3 linked regions of the Homo sapiens genome follow. The protein of the gene in region 1 purifies or fractionates together with the protein of each later gene. This does not show direct contact. Each region holds a gene or a part of one and is shown in the gene's direction. Other genes may lie near its edges.

Evidence for each region. The genes of interacting proteins can lie anywhere in the genome.
Region 2: the proteins of PRG2 (region 1) and PASK purify together in Homo sapiens (affinity purification with mass spectrometry; 4 studies listed by BioGRID and IntAct, with this or other methods). This does not show direct contact.
Region 3: the proteins of PRG2 (region 1) and ARMC8 purify together in Homo sapiens (affinity purification with mass spectrometry; 3 studies listed by BioGRID and IntAct, with this or other methods). This does not show direct contact.

Annotation. Positions count from the first base shown.
Region 1 is NC_000011.10:57,387,629-57,395,402, reverse strand, and holds the start of PRG2 (bone marrow proteoglycan isoform 1 preproprotein), read left to right. Parts: upstream 1-4,752; 5' UTR 4,753-4,807; exon of another isoform or gene 4,808-4,920; intron 4,921-5,446; 5' UTR 5,447-5,458; coding exon 5,459-5,516; intron 5,517-6,085; coding exon 6,086-6,393; intron 6,394-6,694; coding exon 6,695-6,826; intron 6,827-7,537; coding exon 7,538-7,649; intron 7,650-7,774.
Region 2 is NC_000002.12:241,132,466-241,139,488, reverse strand, and holds part of PASK (PAS domain-containing serine/threonine-protein kinase), read left to right. Parts: intron 1-694; coding exon 695-835; intron 836-1,401; coding exon 1,402-1,536; intron 1,537-2,224; coding exon 2,225-2,485; intron 2,486-3,449; coding exon 3,450-3,618; intron 3,619-5,651; exon of another isoform or gene 5,652-6,059; coding exon of another isoform or gene 6,060-6,207; intron 6,208-6,458; coding exon 6,459-6,615; intron 6,616-7,023. UniProt on the Homo sapiens protein: Serine/threonine-protein kinase involved in energy homeostasis and protein translation. Phosphorylates EEF1A1, GYS1, PDX1 and RPS6.
Region 3 is NC_000003.12:138,239,285-138,246,307, forward strand, and holds part of ARMC8 (armadillo repeat-containing protein 8), read left to right. Parts: intron 1-183; coding exon 184-244; intron 245-2,498; coding exon 2,499-2,699; intron 2,700-5,803; coding exon 5,804-5,899; coding exon of another isoform or gene 5,900-5,965; exon of another isoform or gene 5,966-7,023. UniProt on the Homo sapiens protein: Component of the CTLH E3 ubiquitin-protein ligase complex that selectively accepts ubiquitin from UBE2H and mediates ubiquitination and subsequent proteasomal degradation of the transcription factor HBP1.

The DNA of each region.
Region 1 (7,774 bases):
TTGCCACGTGCGTGGTCTTTTCCATCCTTGAAGCCAGTGATGGAGAATTTCCCTTGGATTGAATCACCCACATGGTTGGACTCTCTGACTTCAGGAAGAGAGCCCTGTCTCTTTTATGGGATCACCTGATTAGATCATACCCATAGAGGGCAGTTCCTTTTCCTTAAAGTCAACTGTGGCATGTAACATCACACAACCACAGGAGTAAAATCCATCATATTTACAGTCCCAGGGATTATGCACAGTGCACCAGGGGACAACTGAATTCTGCCTGTCAAAAGGGCCAAGCAGGACTTTATTGGTGAAGAACAGTGGAATGTCATTCTTGGTTCTTCCAGAAAAAAATCACTCAGTAAAGTTAGAGGTTCTCTTGCCTTTTGGGAAGTCATCAAAGAATCTCATGGAGGGTTTGGACCTTCACCCTAGAAACATCACACCATGTTTTCTATAATTGCAGGGTTCATGGTCCCTTGAAGCCTATTCATAGTTTCCAGGTTGAAAAGCTCTGCTGCAGGGTGTGGGGAGGGATGCAGGTGGAGGTGAGGGCTGAATAGTGTGAGCTGCATATCTGGAGCTGTGGTGGTTTTTTTAGTCTTTAAGCTGTCATGTGTTGGGGGTTGGGCATGGGAGGGGCATCCCAAGAGCTCCTTGGTATTGACACCATCTCCAAGGTGATCTCTGCTCTGCCTGGTGCACACATGTTTTTCTCCTGTTGCAACAGCCCACTCTTGTAGAAGAGCAGACCCCTCAGTACCAGGTCTGACCCTGGACAGCTTGTACCAGGAGCTACAGCACACTCCCCCACAAGCCTAAAGTTGGGATGAGCCCCCCGAGAATTAGATCAGAAAAGATTAAATGCAGAGGTGATCTGTCAGGTCCCCTTTGGAAGTGCTGGTATGGAGAGGATTGACTGAGTCTGTTTAGGAACCTCCAAGCTCTGTAGTAACTTTAGGGCTAGAAAGGAGGATGCCTAAGATTCAGGATCCTGCAGTGATGAGTCAACATTTCTTGGGGAAGGAGGCAGGGCTGAGGATTAAACGGAGATGATGGGTATCGTTCTCTTGCTCAAAGGCACTGGACCCCAAGGCCTCCAGCTCTTCGCTCCCATTTGAAATTCAAGTCCTGAGCACACCACAGTTGTGATGCAGGGAAAGAATGTGCTTATCAGAGAGCCTGGGCAAGTGGGCCCCTTGTGAGTACCGTTCAACCTCATTTATGTCATTGGCACCAAAAGTAGACATCAGTCTCTTGAAAGTTTGATTAATGCTGGTCACACTCAAAGACCCTGGGTAGCATTCATTTACTAAGCAATTACTAAATACCAGTTTCTGTGCTAAATGCTGCATCAGTCAGGGCTCTTAATGGCAGGCAGCAGAAACTCTCCTTGGCTGATCTAAGTAGAAAAATCCAGGACTGAAAGGAAACGGAGTAGCTCATGAAATTGCAGGAAGGGCCGGAAAACCAGACATGGAGCCAAAGTCAGGCTGCAGAACAGGTCTAGGGAGGATCCCACTGCTGCTGAGACCTAGACCTTGTGTCTGGCACCCAGGATGTTGTAGGGCTCAGACCCTGGATCAATGTATCCTGCAGTGCCTCTGTGGGTACTGCAACTCCAGGAACTCAATCTTGTCAACGCCACCGCCAGAGAGAGGCCTTCTTGGCCTCCATCTTTTTGGTCACTAGCTCCAGATTCAAAATCTTGAATAGATGCTTCTTCTCTTTGATAGAGCCCAGTCATATGCGTTAGCTGCAAAGGAAGCTGAAAATCTATTAGGAACTTTTGTCTTCAAAAATGAGAGGCCTGTCCTCCACCAAGATCCATAGGAAATGGAATCCAAGAAACCACAGGAAGGGGTGAGGTGACTGGGCAGCTCACAGCATGCATGCTACATGTGAATTATCTCATTCATTTCTCACACTACCCAGTGAGGTAGGTATTGTCATCCCTACTTCATAAATGATGATATGAGGTACAGAAAGTTTAAGGAACTTGCCCAGGACACGACACGCAGCTATTAAGTGCTAGACCCAGTCAATTTGAGTCTGACTTGGACTGTCTGACTCCAGAAGCCACCCTCTCAGACACTGCTGTATACTTCCAGTGAATGTTGATGAAATTTTCAGGGTTGCTAAGCTGTGGATTTCAGATCCTGGATTGTATGACCTAAAAGAGAGACTTCCCTAGGAGTGAGGGTCCCTGAACAGTCAACTGGTTTCCAAGAATGGGCTCCCTCTCATCACCTTATGACAGTAATCCTCTGTCCAACAGCCAAAGAGGTCCTGTGGGGAGGGCTTGCAGATGGGAGTGCGCAGAGCCCAGCTCAAAGCTCCTGACTAGGCTCTTGTTGAGTATTCCTTTGATTCCTGCTTCTGTCTTTTTAAATCAATGGAGACAGGGGAGGGTTATCTCCATCCTCGGCTCAAGATGAAATGCATCGTTCCTCGTTTTTCTCATTCCTTCCCAATGTGTGTACTGTTAACTTTAGTTATGAAGGAAATTACAGTGTCCTGTGCATATACCAAGGCTGTCCAACCTCCACACCTTTGCTCAAGCTGTTCCTTCTACTTGAAATGCCTGTTTCCTTCCCTTCTAATTGCATCTTTCCATCCAGGTAGGAATCAGCTCCTTGGTTCATGGAGCCTTTTCTGCTCTGTTTTACTATGCATGGACTTCCTTCTGAATTAGCAGAGGATGTTTCCTAGCTTGGTCTTAACCCTTCTCCTTTTGTTTGACCTCAATTTACTCATCTTACAAATTAGGTTGTAAGCTAATTGAATACAGGATCTATGCTTCACTCTGATTTTATCTCCACCTGGATAGCATCATTTTTGACACACAAGCAGGCATATGGGAGGGGAGAGAAGTTTGGTGCCAGAAAGAACTGGATTTGAATTCTAACCCTGTTGTTTACGTGAGTACGTTACTTAACCATTAATTACTTCAATGTATATTTATTAAGTACCTACTATGTGCCGGGCACTGTACTAAGCACCAAGGATACAATGGTGAGTAAAGAGATGCAGCCTTCACCATCACGAAGGAAGACAGATGTTAATCCATTAACCAAGTAATCTCACAAGAAAAGTAAAATGACTAACTGATAAGGACAAGCCCCTGGAGCTACAAGAGGGTGTATACAGGGCATCGATCCAATAAGGGCAGTGTTGCGGGGAGATCAGGAGCCACACAGAGCCTGGGTTGTCTCACTTGGAAAATGGGGTATCAACCACCTACCTCACTAGGTTTTTAAAATCAGGTTAAATGAGGTAATACTTGCCATGAACAGTATTTTGTTGATTGATGATTGATTGAAACGGAGTCTCACTCTCTCGCCCAAGCTGGAGTGCAGTGGTGCAATCTCAGCTCACTGCAACCTCTACTTCCTGGGTTCAAGTGATTCTCCTGCCTCAGACTCCCAAGTAGCTGGGATTACAGGCAGCCACCCCTATGCCTGACTAATTTTTGTATTTTTAGTAGAGACAAGGCTTTGCAATGTTGACCAGGCTGGTCTCAACCTCCTGACCTCAAAAGATCCACCCACCTCAGCCTCCCAAAGTGCTGGGATCACAGGCATGAGCCACTGCATCCAGCCACTTGCCATGCATGGCATTTAAAAATGTTCAGTAAATGTTACCATAATGAAGGCTGGTAGGTTGGCCAACTGAGTGGTCTGATTCAGAAGGAAAGAAGTTAGACATACGTGAACATTTCCTGTACTTGAAGATCCTCAGGACAGTGACTCCTAGACCCATCTTCCATCACAGTCAGCTGGGAAGCTTTTAAAAAAATGCAGACATCTGACCTTCACGCTAGACCTATTAGCCAAGCAGAAGTTTCTGGGCAGGGCATCTGCATATTTTTAAAAATCTTTAATAAGGCAGCCTCAAAATTACAGATTCAGCACGCATTTACCATAACCACTGAAGAAATGCAAAGTTATAAAAAGAAGATAAACAACAATCTGTCTCCTGCTTTCTTCCCTCTCCTCCCCTGCTTCTGGAGGCAACAAGGTCAACTATTTGGTGTGATTCCTTTTAGCATTCCCTCCATCAATGGTCACATAAGGATGCTCACAGATAAGCACCTATGCGGGGGTTTTTTTTTTCCTTGTAAAACTATTCACATACTAAATACTTTCCTCAGTATCTTGCCTTTTTTCACTTCATGTCACAGAAACATCTCTTCAGGTTTATAGATACAGGTCCAGCTCTTCTTTTCATAGCCATATAACATTCTGTAGAATAGAGAGGACACATTTTACTCAGTGTCCGATTGATGGATATCAATATTGTTTTCATTTCTACAAATAGTCAAGGAATAACATAACTCTGTAAAAGTTTTATTACTTATAGGCGCATTTATGCCTAAAGGATAGTCTCAAAAGAGTGAAACTGATCAAATGTGCATTTTTTTATTTTAATAGGTATGGACAGATTTGTTCTCAAAATGTTTGTGGCAGTTCAAAACACCAGTAAAACAGGGGAGATATGTATTTTGGAAAAGCACCCAAGGCGATTCTGAAGTGTAGCCCAGGATAAGAACCATTGCCCAGAGCTGTTCCAGATGGCCCCTGGGTTCCTGAAGTGGGTATCGGGAGAGAAATCTTCACTGAATGAATGAGTGGGCTCCCCAGGGAAGTGATGAAATGGTCCTTATCAGCCTTGCTATCTCCCTCTGACAGAGGCAAACTCTCTCTCCCTGGGGGAAGTTCCTCCAAGGCCTCTATATAAGAAGTCTTTGTGAGAGGAAGCAAAGAAGGACCTGGGCTTTGGGAAGATCTAAAGACCCAGGAAGGTCTCTGGGTGGGTGAGTGCTTTCTCTGCTGTGGTGGAGCTGGTGACAGTTTATTCTCCCAGGAGGTCCCTGGCTGTGGCTGACAGTTTCTGGAGGGCTGGCAGGCGTCTACCTGTGGCTTTCAGGTTATGAGGATGTCAGCAGGGGCAGCCTTCATCCTCTGCCTTGCACATTCCTTCTGCGGGATGTGAAAGTGCTCCTTGGCTGGGGAAAGGAGATGGTGGAGACATGGAGGAGGGTGTGGGTGGCTTCTTGAACTCTGAGGAGGGGACATACCTTCTAAGTCCTATGTGTTCCTAGGAAAGCCAATAATCATTGCTTCTCCCGCCTTTTTTATGTCATAGACTCTGAGGGACCCATTAAGTACAAACAAATAAGCGTAATAGTCCCTTCTTTACTTCCGGGCCTGAAGGAAAGCCAGCCTCAGCCACCCCTCAGGGTTTGCTGCGTTCTGTTTAGAAAGAGGTCCTTGCGTCCTGGATCCTGGAGCATCAGGAGCTGGGCTTGGCATGAGCTTTTCTGGCCCATCCTGATTTCTATTCAGGCCTTCTTTTTCTCCACCTCACTCCCACGGTCCCCTAATGGTGTGATTGTGATGTGTGTGCATGTGTGTCTGTGTGTGTCAATGACAAACTGTGTTCTCCGTTGCAGGATAAAGCCAAGATGAAACTCCCCTTACTTCTGGCTCTTCTATTTGGGGCAGTTTCTGCTCTTCATCTAAGTAAGTGTTTTTTGCCTTCAGTCTTTCTTTCTCTGTTTTTTCCCTTTCTATGGTAGATGGGGTCAGAGTTACACACCCACCCCCTTCTTTGATCGTCTTCTATTTCTGAATTTCTGTGTGCTTAAAGGGATGGGGACTCTATGGCCAGGAGTTGAAAGGATTTCTCAAGGCGTCTGTTATGTCTGTGGTCTTGGTTCTACTGTGACATTCCCAATTTTGTCCTTTCTCCATTATGCTTACTTTGAGCTTACTGAGTGCCTTCTCTCCTTTAACTCTCTTAGCATCGCCATGAAGTAGGTGGTATTGTATACCCATTTCACAGAAATACAGCTGGTGGATGATGGAACCAGTACCCAAGCCCATGACTGCCCGACTCTAAGTCCATGCTCTTAACCACCTTGACCTTGTCAGGCAGCTTGGGTTCCCCTCATAGAGACTGGGTTCCAGGTTCCCCTTCCCAGGCAGAGTTGAGCACTCTGATGCCCAGGGCAAGGTGTGAGCTGTCTGTGGTTCTGGGGAGGAACAAGGGGAGATGTGAAGGAAGGACACTTAGCTATCCTCCCTGCCAGGGTCTGAGACTTCCACCTTTGAGACCCCTTTGGGTGCTAAGACGCTGCCTGAGGATGAGGAGACACCAGAGCAGGAGATGGAGGAGACCCCTTGCAGGGAGCTGGAGGAAGAGGAGGAGTGGGGCTCTGGAAGTGAAGATGCCTCCAAGAAAGATGGGGCTGTTGAGTCTATCTCAGTGCCAGATATGGTGGACAAAAACCTTACGTGTCCTGAGGAAGAGGACACAGTAAAAGTGGTGGGCATCCCTGGGTGCCAGACCTGCCGCTACCTCCTGGTGAGAAGTCTTCAGACGTTTAGTCAAGCTTGGGTGAGTGGCCTATGGCTGAGGCTGAGGTGGGAGCATGGAACGGGTGTGGGATATGCCCCCAGCATTGCTATCACTGGCTCTTTTTCCCATTGAGGGCCCTGGGGGTGTCAGTAGAACCTGAGCCTCAGAGAGGTGTTGGGGTAAGAGGGGAGGGCCACCTACAAACAGAAGTTGCATTTTGGTCTCCAACCTTCAAATGGTTGTGGCAGGGGAGGGAGGGAATGAATTGTGGGGACTCAAGACCCATGTGAATTCATGTAGGAAGGATGCTCCATTCTTTGTCTTTTATCCTGCCCTGTAGTTTACTTGCCGGAGGTGCTACAGGGGCAACCTGGTTTCCATCCACAACTTCAATATTAATTATCGAATCCAGTGTTCTGTCAGCGCGCTCAACCAGGGTCAAGTCTGGATTGGAGGCAGGATCACAGGCTCGGTAAGAGAAGTGTGAACACTAAATGGGGTGCACCTGCTGATCTCAGCCAGCACTCAGCTTGCATCAGATTTGTCTGTTTTTCTCCTGTATAATCTCCAGAAGAACCAGGGATAGATGGACACCCACAGACAACACTGAGGGGGCTGCCTGGGCATTCAGGGAAGAGCTAAGGATTTAGAATCAGGAGGTTTGGGTCCAAGTTCCTTTCCATCTCTCACTATCTATGTAACTTAAGTTAGCTGGGCATGGTGGTGCATGTCTGTAATCCTAGCTACTTGGGAGGCTGAGGCAGGAGAGTCACTGGAACCTGGGAGACAGAGGTTGCGGTGAGCCGAGATGGAGCCATTGCACTCCAGCCTGGGCAACAAGAGCGAAACTCCGCCTCAAAAATAAATAAATAAATAAATAAAATAAAAAAAAAATTAAAACAAGACCATGAGTTTGTTTCCTCATCTCTAGGATGAGTTGGCAACCCTTGTTCTACCTTTTGTTAGGGCTGGAAGGACAAGCCTGTCACTGGGATGCATAGAATCTGATGGTGATAATTGCCGTGGATCAGCATTTCAGATGACTAGGACAGTTCCCATCATGGTCCAGCAGGGAAGGGCCCATTGCCCGGTGGGCAGCAGAAAGAGCTGGCAGATACGGGGCCAGGTCTGCTTCTCTGCCTTCCCTCTGCCCCATCCCTTCTTCCCCTCTTGCTTTCTCCAGGGTCGCTGCAGACGCTTTCAGTGGGTTGACGGCAGCCGCTGGAACTTTGCATACTGGGCTGCTCACCAGCCCTGGTCCCGCGGTGGTCACTGCGTGGCCCTGTGTACCCGAGGTGAGGTGGGGCTGGGGATGAACGATGGAAAGGTCTGGGAGATGGGAAGTGCCCCAAGGAGGAGATGCTACAAAGAGCCTGACCCTTTGTGGGAGAGGCTTCCTGGGTCTTTTATATACTCTGAC
Region 2 (7,023 bases), on another chromosome or scaffold:
GGTGTTGGCCTGGAAGCATTTCCCTAGACAGTGTTGATTCTCTCACCTGTGCCATGTGTCCAACCTGGATGTTGACAGGTGAGCTGAGTTGGATGTGGAGGACTGAGCCCAAGGCATGGAAAAAGCCCAAGGCATGGCTGATTGTAGGGTTTCCCCTCGTCAGCCGGTCGGGGACTGGGGGAGTAGCGTTGGAGGGCAGTGGAGGTTGGGGTATGATCTGAGGCTCTAGTAGTCATCCAGATCCTCCAGGTTGCCTGTTTCCCACCTAGTGTGTGGCTTTCACACAGAAGACCCCATTGCTTGAACTGAACTGATGTCACAGGCTTAGGACCAATTGTATCAGAAAATCACTGGTTCAAGAAACTGACTACTAAGAAGAAAAAAACTAAGATATTCACCATGTGTTGGTGTCTGTTTCTTTAAGAAATAACAGATACTGCTTTTTTCACCCTGCAATATTACCATGAACTGAGAATGAAATCTACTCTCTTGATAAAACTTGCACTTGGAGATTTTAATGTTCAGTATGGGAAATCTTGTTTGTGCTTTGGTAAATTTCTGAAATGAAAATCAGGTAAGCAGAAGTTGAAAACGTTGCAGTGCCTGGAGTTTGGGCCTCCTGGAGGCAGGTGCCCCACCCATACTGGTCTTTTGGGTTCATGGCATGCAGGTGTGAACCTGTCTGTTTCCACAGGTGGACATCATCAGCCGTAGTGGGGAGAAGATTCCAGTGTCTGTGTGGATGAAGAGGATGCGGCAGGAGCGCCGCCTATGCTGCGTGGTGGTCCTGGAGCCCGTGGAGAGGGTCTCGACCTGGGTCGCTTTCCAGAGCGATGTGAGTGTGCAACTTTGCCTCATGTCTCATGGACGCTGGAGCCGGCGTCGTTCTCCTCTTCAGCAAGTGCTGGTCCCTGTCTCATTCCTTTGGGAAGAAAGAGAGGATGAGGAGCCTGGAGGGTCTGCCCAGTGGTACCCTCGCTGATTGCGTGTGCTTGGGCAGGGAACGAACTTCCTATACTTCAGTTCCTCACCTGTGAACTGGGGCATAATCATAACTCCTCATAAGATTGTTTCAACATTTAAATGAGATAATATATGTAAACCCCCCAGGATAGTAGCTGGCATTAGAGACAGCCCTCATATGTGAACTGGGATGTTATTAATGAGCTGTGGTGTGGGCCAGGCTCCTGAAGAACAAGAAGGCCCACAATTTAGGTACGTCTCTGGTAGAAGGAGACAGATGATGAAGCTCTTATCAAATTCATGTGTATATGTCTCTTGCCCTTCCGATGGAGAAGTCATGTTGGGGTCTTGCTTTTGGCTTGAACATATTGAAGCTTAGTTAAATTTACAGCTGGAGCACAAGAAGCTTTTATGATAAGCACGGGGCTTTTCCTCCAGGGCACCGTCACGTCATGTGACAGTCTCTTTGCTCATCTTCACGGGTACGTGTCTGGGGAGGACGTGGCTGGGCAGCATATCACAGACCTGATCCCTTCTGTGCAGCTCCCTCCTTCTGGCCAGCACATCCCAAAGGTAGGGCTCCTGACCTCCCGCACTGTGTGATGGGGTGGAGTTCTTAGCTCTGAATCCATAACTGGAGACGCAGACCAAGGGTTTCTGAAGGCAAGGGTGGCCTTAGGGGTGGGACATGCTCAGTTTTGAGCTTCCTGTGCGCTGAGGCCTTGACCAAGGGCCGGAGCCTATGTGGTCTCCCAGCTGACCACTCTTGTCCCCTGAGTCTTCTCCCAGGAGCTGGGCCACCCACAGAGGTGGATGCTGGGACGCTGCCCAAGGCTGAGGGGTGGGAGGTAACATCCACAGCTGCGCAGCTGGTGTAGTGCTGCCTGTGGGGCCAGTATCCTGGTGCCAGATCAAGGATGGCACAGTTGCCAGTGGCGTGGCTGAGCCCCGAGCCTGAGCCCCACAGTCCTCCCTCCCTCCCTCCCTGCTGGTGCCCGGCCCCTCACTGGGGTGTCTCACTTGCCCTGGGGTTGCTGTGCCTGGGGCGGCTCTGGACACTGAGTCCTCCCCACCCACAGAAGGGCTCTTTCCTGGGCCAGCTGGGCCTGGGAGGAGAGGGAAGGCAGAGCAGTGTGGGTGTGAGATGTCCTGGGGACCTTCCCCGATGACGTGGGGTAGAAGTCGGGTCGGACGCAGCACAGACTCAGTGCTCTGTCCACGTGAAACACGGCTTAAGCCAAACGACAAGCCTTTCTTTCAGAATCTCAAGATTCAGAGGTCTGTTGGAAGAGCCAGGGACGGTACCACCTTCCCTCTGAGCTTAAAGCTGAAATCCCAACCCAGCAGCGAGGAGGCGACCACCGGTGAGGCGGCCCCTGTGAGCGGCTACCGGGCATCTGTCTGGGTGTTCTGCACCATCAGTGGCCTCATCACCCTCCTGCCGGATGGGACCATCCACGGCATCAACCACAGCTTCGCGCTGACACTGTTTGGTTACGGAAAGACGGAGCTCCTGGGCAAGGTGGGGCTGCCCTGGGCGCCTGGCTCCCGTTCCCTGGGAGGAAGCTGCTGTGCTCTGCAGTGCGGGCTTGCGTGTGGCACAGGCCTCGCACCCGGCAAGCTCTCCAGCTCGCTCCTTTACCCAGGAAGGACCTTGGGTCCAGGGAGGGAGGTCCCTGCTCATGGCTGCCAAGCTCCTTCCTCTCCACCCTTCCCCAGCAACCACCGTCGGAGGGAGAGGAGCACTGTGCTTCGAAGCCCTGAGAGATCTGGTCTGACTGATGGACCAGGGTTTACGACACAACTGCGGGGGTTCATTTCTCACCCTAGTAGAAATACTAAAAAGTAGCTAAGCTGAATTGTAGTTACGTTAAATTTAAGTTAGTTAAAAAGCAGTTAGTGTTCTTCCTGGATGAGGGGTTCCCACAGGAGCTGAGGGCATTGAGACCTTGCAGGGATTTTGGGGGCATGGACACTTGTGCCCTCTGTGAGGTTAGAGCGGGTTCTGGCATTACAGCTATGGGCAGTGTCCCGGTGAGGGGGCCACACACAGGTTCAGAGGAAGCATCTGTCAGAGCAGCTCCTGGCCTGGGAGGAAGGCCCCACAGTCCTTCTGTCCTGGGTGCATGTCACTGTTCCGGCCACCAGTGAGCCGCGTGAGGTGAGGCTTGCAAACACAGGCTCCCAGATCCATCTAAACATGGGGCCAAAGGCCAGATGTCTGCTCCAAAGATGTGTCGATGTCACTGTAACTTGCCGCAGAGTATGTTTTTACCTTTTTCTTAAGGGGAAAATCACAGATCACATGTTGAGCATCTGAGGGGCTTCAGGTGCGTCGAAGGGCATTTGGCCCGAGGCCTTTCCTGACCTTAAGGGTGAACCCTCAGGGACTGGCTCTCCTTGTGTTCATTCCTCCCCCAGGGGGACGGTCCAGTGGGTCAGCGTGGATCCTCCAGGTTCTGAAATGTCCCTGCTTTGTTTTCTAGAATATCACTTTCCTGATTCCTGGTTTCTACAGCTACATGGACCTTGCGTACAACAGCTCATTACAGCTCCCAGACCTGGCCAGCTGCCTGGACGTCGGCAATGAGAGTGGGTGTGGGGAGAGAACCTTGGACCCGTGGCAGGGCCAGGACCCAGCTGAGGGGGGCCAGGGTAAGACGTCCTCTTCCTCCTGAATGCGCCTGTAGCTGCTGAGCCCCAGACAGCCCCATGCCTCTGAGACAGGGCTGGGAGGAGCAGGAGCTATTGTCCCTCCAGAGGCTCAGGGGTGGTGGGGGGCGGAGTAGGGGGTGACTGTTTTCTGGTTTGATGTTCCTCTCTGTCTCGGGGGCTGTGACATATTCTTATAAACATATGAGCATAGAGAAGAGAATAGAAAACCCCCCAAGAGTGCATCACCAGTGCCCATGATATCCGAGACACAGCATCCGAGACACAGCTAACTGACCGTCTTGTCTTTTCTAAGTAAACTTATATAGCTTCATGTAGTTTAAGTGAAGCCATGTAGCATATCGGATTACCGCTGACCCTTGAACAACTGGGTTTGACATTAGAGGGTCCACTTATACACAGATTCTTTTCAACCTCAGAAATCCAGTACTGGTGGGAGGTGAAGTTGGCGTATATGGAGGGCTGACTTTCCATGCACCTGCGTTCCACGGGTGGGCTGTGGGACTTGAGGGTGCTCGGATTTTGGCATTCTGGGGGTCCTGGAACCCATCCCCTGAGTGTACTGAGGGTTGACTGCAATTCCTAAATTGAATGTTCTACCAGTATTTCCTGGTTTAATTATGTTTATCCCACATAGTTTTAATTTAACATTTTAAATGATTTCAACAAATACTCCGAGTCCCTTTCATATGCACAGTCTTAGGTGTGTGGCTTGTGAAGACAGGGTGAGCACACTGCCTCCTGTCCCGAGGGACCCACTCTGGCTGGGAGCAATGAGGGGCAGTAGAACCCGCTGATGTCCTGGCAGGGCCCACGCCTGAGCTCCTGGTAAGGAGCAGGCCCCTGGCTGCTTCCACAGTGCTCATTCTTGTTGACAAGCATGGGGTGGGGGTGCGCCCTGTCCCTGGCTCTGCCCTGGTGGGGACCCCGGAACTCTGCCTCCAGGGCCTCTGCCCACCTGGAGCGTGGGCTCACTGGGTGTGGTTCTGGAGTTCCTGGGGCAGGCTGGGGCCCAAGGGTCCAGGTGATGGTGTGGCAGGGGTGTCAGGTGGGGGGGTCTCTGTTCTATGGAAGGACACAGTGGGGGTGAGAGAGAGAGAGTGGCCAGTGCTGGCAGAAAGCACAGCCACCTCGGGGCTCTGCATCGTGGTGGGGCCAGGCGGGTCGGCAGGTGCTGGCTTGCGAGGTTGTCCTGCATGCGGTCACTCGGGTATCGAATGAGTGCGAAAGTGGATTTAATACAGTCACTGAGAAAAACTACAGCTTCACGAGACTGACCAGCCTGGTGAGATAAACATTTACCGTCAGACACTCTTTAGCTGTCTGGGCATTGTGTGAGTTCTTTGGCACATGCGCCCAGCCTCCTTCCCCACAGGGTCTCGCCTGGGGCATTAGAAGCTGGATTGTAACATTTGTTTTAAAAGATACTTTGTTAGGCTGTTGGTTCTCCTTACAATCCCGGCTTTCCTTAGCATGTGGTTCCCTTCATTGTATCTGGGTTTTTCTATCTCAGTCTGTCCTTTATACAAGCTTTTTCCTCTAGCACTAATTATATTCCCCTTCCCCTTTTTCCAGAATTCCAAATTCTGACCTGTGCATGCATGCCTGTGTTGAGTACATGCTGTTTGTCGGATATTTGGTGGTGGGGGGAGGGGATCACATTTCTGTTACTCTCGCATTGTTTCCTTAGGATGAATTCTTAGAAGTGGAACTTCTGGATTCAGGGAATGAACACGTTTGCTAGTTACTGTCAAAAATGCCTCTTGGAGAAGTTATGCCGAACCACCCAACTGTCCTGGTCACAGAGCAGGCTTCTCTCGGCTTGGGGCTAGGGTTCTTTCTGGGGTCGTCCTTTTTTTTTTTTTTTTTTGAGACAGAGTTTCGCTCTTGTTGCTGAGGCTGGAGTGCAGTGGCACCATCTCGTCTCACTGCAACCTCTGCCTCCTGGGTTCAGGTGATTCTCCTGTCCCAGCCTTCCGAGTAGCTGGGATTACAGGGATGTAGCACCATGCCTGGCTAATTTTGTGTTTTTAGTGGAGACGGGGTTTCTCCATGTTGGTCAGGCTGGTCTCGAACTCCCAGCCTCAGGTGATCTGCCCGCCTCGGTCTCCCAAAGTGCTGGGATTACAGGTGTGAGCCACTGTGCGTGGCCTCCCAGGGTCCTTCCTAATGCAGGCTGCTTTCTCTCATGTAACCAAGAGACATACATTCATCCCCTACCACGTGCCAGGCTGCACTGCGTGCAGATGCCCCTGCGCTCACGGGGACTGGAGGGAGCCAGGTGACATGGAGCCCAGGAAGTGGCCAGAGCTCGGGAGGAAGGCAAAGAGGGGAAGAGGGCATGCAGTCTTAGGCTTGGGGTCCCAGGAGGCCTAGGGAAGCCTTGTAGATACCCAGGTACAGCATTTCTGGGATCAGGAGCCATGATCCCAAGGCCTCTAATACTTCAGATATGGCAGGGAGGCCAGGTGGAGAGACCTGGAGGAGTGAGGCCACAGAGTTGGGGGGCCATGGCCGAGACTTCGGCTTCTATCCAGAGTCAGATGGGAGCTGTTGGAGGGTTGTCAGCAGGTGAGTGCCGTGCTCTGACTTGGGTGTTAATAGGATCATGGTAGCTGGCTGCAGGTGTCCTGGGCCAAGGAGCAGGGAGACAGGAGGCAGAGAAGAGGGCGCTGGGTTGGACCTGGGACGCCTGGGGTGGTGAGAGGTGGTCGATGCTGGTCATGCTGTGAAGCAGTCTCAGTGAGTTCCAGGCGAATGAGCAGATTCGTTTTAGGGAGTGCCTGTGAAGAGCAAACGCTCTTTTTTGGTGTTGCTGCCAGATCCAAGGATTAATGTCGTGCTTGCTGGTGGCCACGTTGTGCCCCGAGATGAGATCCGGAAGCTGATGGAAAGCCAAGACATCTTCACCGGGACTCAGACTGAGCTGATTGCTGGAGGCCAGCTCCTTTCCTGCCTCTCACCTCAGCCTGCTCCAGGGTAAGTCCCTTGGTGGGAGGTTGCAGGTTTACTAAAAGTCCAGACAGATGGTAGGTGAATGAGGAACAAGTCAGAGAGAAATGTTCAGCCTATTATTCATAGTAACATTGAAAACTCACATGTGTTGAGCACCTGCTCTCTTCCACACACACTGACTGCTGGGTTTTCTGTGCTGCCTGGCTGAGTCCTTATCAGCCTGTATGGGAGGGCACCATGGTGTTACTGTCTCACTGTAGGGATAAGGAAACAGGCTGTGGAGAGTTCCAGAATGTTGAGGTAGATTTCAGAGAACTGATGGAATCATAATTTTATCATTTTCTTTTTTTTTTTTTTTTTTTTTTTTTTTAGACAGAGTCTCGCTGTGTCACCCAGGCTGGAGTGCAGTGGTGCGATCTCAGCTCATTGCTC
Region 3 (7,023 bases), on another chromosome or scaffold:
GTTAGTTTTCTTTGACTATTAAATTGACTGAACCTCCGAAAAGCGAATTGTCAAAATCTTCACTCTCAAGATAAGTGATATTATTTGGTTTTCGATTTTTTAATAAAATCTTAAAGGCAAATAATTTTTCATTTAAAGCTTTAAACTCCAAGCAAAAACTTATTTTCTGCTGTCTTATTCCAGTTTAACTTACATGTGTAGAGCTGGAGCAATTCGGACAGATGATAACTGTATTGTATTAAAGGTAAGCTAATTAATTATCTTTAAAATGTGAAAATTATCCAGTTATGTGTTAAATATCAGTATTGATACTCATATTTCATTTTACACATTTATCATTATGATATATGTGCATGGCGTAGAATAATATTGAAAGACCATGCTTTCTTTTCAGTGGATGTCATATAGTTTTTAAAAATTGATTTTAGATGTGTTTCGAAAGTCAGCGTGAAATAATTATTTCATTGTCACAGCCTTTCATTTTATGGTAATTAGGAGGATGTGGAAATTGTAAAAGTGTACAATTCAGGTGAAACAGAAAATATATTTCGTTCTTGATTGTCATTAAATTTGTACTACAGTTTTAGAGGCAGACGATTTGCCACTTTTGCAGAAAAAGACTTTATATCATTCTCATAGCTGATAATCAAAAGGCATAATGAAAGAGAATAAGTAGATAACACATGAAAACAAGCATTGTCATTGTGATATGTCATATACAACTTGAATTTAGAAAAACCTGGAGAAAAGACCAGCCCTAAAAGTCCTAAAACCTGGATTCTGGTTTTAGCACTCCCACCTCTGACTGTACATCCTTTATTCTTTTGATGCCTCGGACTCCAGATTATGAAAATTGAAGCAATAATTCCTGCTCATCTATGCACAGGGTTATTGTGAGGATAACAATATATTAAATACATTAAAATGTCTTATTAGCTATAAAAAATTAAGTATAAGTAAATTGATGATGTGTCATTTTATAAATATGAGATCTCACATTATCATTGTTCAAAAGGTGATCCCAAGGATAAAAGAGCACAAAGAAGACTAATATTTGCTTTAGTCTTTGGGGAAGAGAATTAATTTAATGAGATCTGAACACTCCCTAAGTAAACAACTCTTCATAGAGTGCCACGGACTTCCATAGCATTTATCTTGATTTATTTACTTCTCTAACCTTCCTCTTTTTCTGCATTGGTAAAATGTTAGTAGTATATTCTTCACATAGTAGTCATGAGCATTAGATTACATAATTCATGAATTTATGGTATCAATAAATATTAGTAACTAGTAATGTTAGGGAAAAAAGAATAGGGCCTTCCCCTTGGAAACCTAGGGTTGAATTATAAAGCTTCTACTAGCCTAATAGGAAATTAGTAGTGAACGATGAAGTGCTAAGCTCTGTGGTAAAAGATATAATAGGAACTTATTATATATAAAAGAGCAAAGCACAGTTGCCTGCAGTATTTGAGGAAGACTTTCTATAATGATAACATTTCAATTTATACTTCCACATTGTCCTTTCAAGTGGATCCGTCAGGCTTAGAAATAGTAAATGTCGTTCGAGACCAGCCTGGCCAACCTGGTGAATCCCCATCTCTACTAAAAATAAAAAATTAGCCAGGAGTGGTGGTGGGTGCCTGTAATTCCAGCTACTCAGAAGGCTGAGGCAGGAGAATTGCTTGAATCCAGGAGGCAGAGGTTGCAGTGAGCCGAGATCGTGCCATTGCACTCCAGCCTGGGCGACAGAGCGAGACTCCGTCTCAAAAAAAAAGAAAAAGAAATAGTAAATGTCTGTAATATTTTTATTGAGAACCTAATGTAGATAAGTTACCAAACCATTGCCAAGATTTTTGAGGGACCTCAGAAGTAAAATTGGACTCATGGATACCACTGCTAATTCCAGCAAGTTACTGGGAAAACCTAGCAACTGTGATACATTTCAGTTGCATTATAGTAGAACTGGTGGAATCTGAGTAATGGTAAGATCACTGCAGTTTTAAAGCTGTATTTTGTTTTGGCAACTGTAGGTATGACTCCCCAAACCAAAAAATAAACGATATTACTCACTAAGGAAGAGATAGCATACTTTTCCTAAGGCAAAATCATTCCTGATTAAACTGCTGGGTCTTTTTTAGGTAAATAAATAGATAGATAGGGCAGAACCATCAGACATGATTTGTTAGGGATTCTTAAATGTCTTTTACAAAGTTGTACAATAAAACTTGTCTTATCGGTCCCAAAAGCCTAATTAGAATTTGTATTAATATACTTTGACGTACGAATAGAGTTTAATGTGCCAGTACAAATTATTAATGTGTACTGAATTTTGCTTGTTTTTGCATTTTAAAAAAATCTTTTATTCTCTAGAAGTCAGTAAAGGAAATATATGATCATAAACATTACTCCTGATAAAAGCTATTGAGTTGATTCAGTCACTATATGCTTAAGCTTTTACCTTTACCAAAAAGCAAATAATTAATCTCACTACCTTTCAGACATTACCTTGTTTGGTTCGAATGTGCAGTAAGGAGAGATTACTAGAGGAGAGAGTTGAAGGAGCTGAGACACTTGCCTATCTGATTGAACCAGATGTTGAGCTACAGAGAATCGCTAGCATAACTGATCACCTCATTGCCATGCTTGCTGATTATTTCAAGTATCCCAGCTCAGTGAGTGCCATCACTGATATTAAAAGGGTATGTTATTTTCCTTTTTTAGCAGCTCAAGGGAGATTTTTCTAAAGTTTTTCTTACTGTTCACAGTTTTGAACCAATTGATAACTACAGCTTAAAGCCCTTTTAAATAAAGGTTCTTTTATCTTTGGTAACATAGATAATATTGCTTTGTGAATTTTTGAATCCAAGTTGTTTAATGTTTATTGTCAGAAAGTTTTTACTGAGCAGATAAGCAATAAAGAAAATTGCATCCTAACTCCCCAACTAAACCTCAAAAGTAGTGGATTCTCCAAGCTGGGTATTGACATAACCGTATAATCTTATTCTTGGTCATGGAATCATCTCTGTTGTTACATTCTCATTCTTTAGGTCAGGAGTAATCTTTTTGTTACAGGAGACTAAGTTGTCCCATGTTACTTTCCACCACAGTCTATTTTGTTACCTTTCCCTATCTTCTCTTTTTCCCAGTTTCATACTGTGCTTTGGGCCTGCTAGTGACAGCTAAAGCATCATTTAATCTTGAATTTGGGACCAAAAAGGCCAAATTGTGCTTTTTCTGAAAACCTAAGTTCCTTAGAATAGATCGGTATTTATTTTGACTTGTTGCATCTCAGCCTGTTTGCCCTATCCATTTCTTTAAGCATAGGAGATGAACATTCTGTAAGAGAAAGTTTATTCAAGGAGGTCATGGTAGAGAGAACATTGCCTCTTAATTAGTAGCCAGTACTGTTTCATGAATGTAACTGTATTTTTCATGCCAGTGGTTCCAATGGTAACTATTCTCCTTTTGACCTCTCCCTCATGCTTTTGAGTTTCAAAAAACCTCATTTGGTAGGCAGTTGTTCATTTGGCTTTTAACTTTGAAAATAAAGCAAACTATTAAGGGTATATCTTTACTCTGTCTTAAGAAGGGCCTAAAATAACCTTCACTGGTATTTGTATTAGTAATGTACTCTACTCTCTGGGTATTAAACTTATGTGTCTGCTCTTCTTTCAGTAGTGGTGTTTTTCCAGTAGAAGTGATGGGTTACATACATTTAACCAGTTGCCTTGTCTGTTTTCCTTCTGGTCATTTTTTCACACTGACACTGTATCTTACCAATACAAAGATACATGAGCAACCCTTAGCTACTGCCTCATGAACGCCCTGAGTTGACCACCCCAGGAAGGCAAATAAAATGTTTTGATGGCCATGAGAGTAAGGAAACAATTTTAAGAACATGTAGCCTATGCATATGCAAATCATTTAACTAGTACGTAGATTATCCCTTCTGTTAGTTTTTCCATTTCATTTCCATCAGAGTAAAACTGTAACAACAATAATCCTTAAAAATGACATCGTAATACCAAACTTGAGTAATAGTTTGTTTTGTCATCTTTATTTTTGATGATGGATTATCCAAAGGTTTCTGACCCGAAAAGTATAGACACTAGACCCGTAAAGAGAAATCTTCACATGTTAATAAATTTGTGATTTTCATGATATGTTAGTTCAAGTCAGTATTATATCTTAATTTATGACTAGAATGTAGTTAAGACTTTAAGAGTAGATACTTTTAGAACTTATCAAAGTGAGTATTCTGTATTGGGAAGTTCTTCCTATAATCCATCAGTGTCTGCTTTGAACAGAAGTTTTGGAACTATTAAGAATTGCCTTCAGAGCCACCCCAAATTATATATATATGTAAAATATATATATTGTCTTTTGCTTTCTGTGGAATTTTTTGTTACCTACGTTATATTACCCAACTGAATTTCTCCATCTTCACACACAGTCAGTGACAACTAAAAGTCTCATCATTGATCAAGCTATACCACTGTCAGTGTTTTCTAGCTAATAATACCAGTTAGCTCTTTAGGAAGTTTCAAAAGAGGGTCTCAGAATGTTATGAACAACACCTACATCATTGGATGAGTGAACCTTTCCAAAGTAACTTCTTTGGGAAAAGTGGTATTCATTTGGATGATTACATTAAGGCTTTTAGTTACGAGGTTATTTATATTATTGGTAGACTTTGTATAGTTACTTGGTCATAGTCAGTCATTGAAAGTATCCTGAAAATATGCTTCTGTTTTATCTTTACAGTAGTTTGGTGATCAAGTTTATAGAAGAGTTGATAATTAGTTATGCATGTTTAAAGATACCATTAATTGCTTCATGCTGATAATTTTGATAATGTTCTTGAAAAAACCCATACCCAACATAAATCTCAGATAACTGTAATAGATAATAATGGTTACCATAGTATACGGTTTGTTAAGCATTTTCACAATGGGTTCTCTGTTTCTAAAAGCTTTTTATTTTATTTATTTTTATTTATTTATTTATTTTTGAGATGTAGTCTCGCTCTGTTGCCCAGGCTAGAGTGCAGTGGCGCGATCTCGGCTCACTACAACCTCTGCCTCCTGGGTTCACACCATTCTCCCGCCTCAGCCTCCCAAGTAGCTGGGACTACAGGCGCCTGCCACCACGCCCAGCTCATTTTTTTGTATTTTTAGTAGAGACAGGGTTTTATCGTGTTAGCCAGGATGGTCTAGATCTCCTGACCTCATGATCCATCTGCCTCGGCCTCCCAAAGTGCTGGGATTACAGGCGTGAGCCACCGCGCCCGGCCTCTAAAAGCTTTTTAAATGCCAAAATTAGGCCAGCACTACTCTTAATGTTTCAGAAAATTAAGGGAACCCTCCTAAAGACATTGTTGCGATTTCATTCAGGTTATCAGCTGTAGTCTGGGGCTAGAGAAGTCCAGGTGTGCCTTCTTTTGAAGGAGAACATTTCAAAGAGCTGCTGCAAGCAAGCATTAGTGCCAGTAAAGCTACCATTTAGGAACACTGAATTTTTCGGAGTCAGAGATTCACAATGGTTTTTCATATATCAGTGTCAAATATAGTGTTCACTTTTAAATGGAAGCATATTGTGTGCATTTTAGGTCACATTGATACGAACACTGCAAAGTCTCAGTGCTATGTGAACAGAATCCAAAAATAACTGGGAAATGTAGTTAATGACTGGGAAATTCACTAAAATCTAAAAGTTGTAAACTTTTTTTTTCTTCAACTCAGTTAATGTTATTGAAAGTTGAATTTATGGACTGAGTTGGAACATATCCTTTTTTTCCCCATAGCTTGATCATGATTTAAAACATGCTCACGAACTCCGCCAGGCTGCATTCAAGCTCTATGCCTCTCTTGGAGCAAATGATGAAGACATCCGGAAGAAGGTGAGTCTGGGAGAGGGGCGTCCCCCAGTCCTGACAGCCAGCAGGCAGGGAGTGACGTCAACCTGAAAGTCGTGGTGAAGAGCACTAACAGTGACTGTTTGAATATAATAAAGCAGAGTGACTAAAGGCATAATTGAAGAATGAATGGGACCCGGATTTGGGGGGTTGTTTGTTTGTTTTTAGAACATAGAGTGGCATGGCCGTGCTGGAATGACAAATAACTGGCGTGCTTTTTTTTTGTGTCATTAATATGAATTATTATGTTGCACATTTTTGCATGTGTTCTGATAAAAATCAATTCTAGCACTGTGAAGCTTCAGACACCTTGAAAGTCCTAACATTAGAATTGTAAATGTTATTTATGGAAATACCTTCCAATGCTATTGAGAAATTCAAATCTCTATTGTATATTGTTCTTTGATATGTGGCTTAGTTTTATGTTTTGATTTTTTTTGCTACTGTGCAAGTTTAATGTGAATAAAATCTTTGTGGAATGATGATTTTATGTTTAGTGAGTGGTCATCTGAATTTTCCAGCTCCCCAGAAAATGTATGCACTGGTATAGCACCCTTATGTTACTAAAGCCTAGTCTAACACTGAACTCATGTTCTTGATGAGAATACTTCTAGATGAGGAGTATAGTGGTAAGTAAGCTCTGACTTGGCTCCTTCCACAAACCAAAAAGCTGGAACTTACCACTCAAAAACATGTATAACCTAATAAATTCTACACAAGGCTTTCAAGACCATCAGAGAGCAAAACCACATGTTCTGTCTTGAGGAGCCATAGCAGAAAGAGCAAATTAGTCATTATTTACTGAACATGATGATTTACTAAATCTCTCCATCTGCATTAGTATTTTAAGGAGCACTGTGAGAGAAATCACAAAGTATTAGAGTTTACCATGATTCAGAGAAGTTCTTCAGGCCTGTAGAAAGAGGAGTATGGAACAACCTTACATTTGTTGAAATAACTTGAAAAGGAACCATTTCTTGAAGAAACTGAAGTAATAGCAATAAGATTTGATGTGTGAGTAGCTTTGATTTAAAATCAATGCAAAAAGCACAACTAATAAATTGAATGTTTCCATGTACCTCACTTTATTTCAGTTAACAAGATACTTT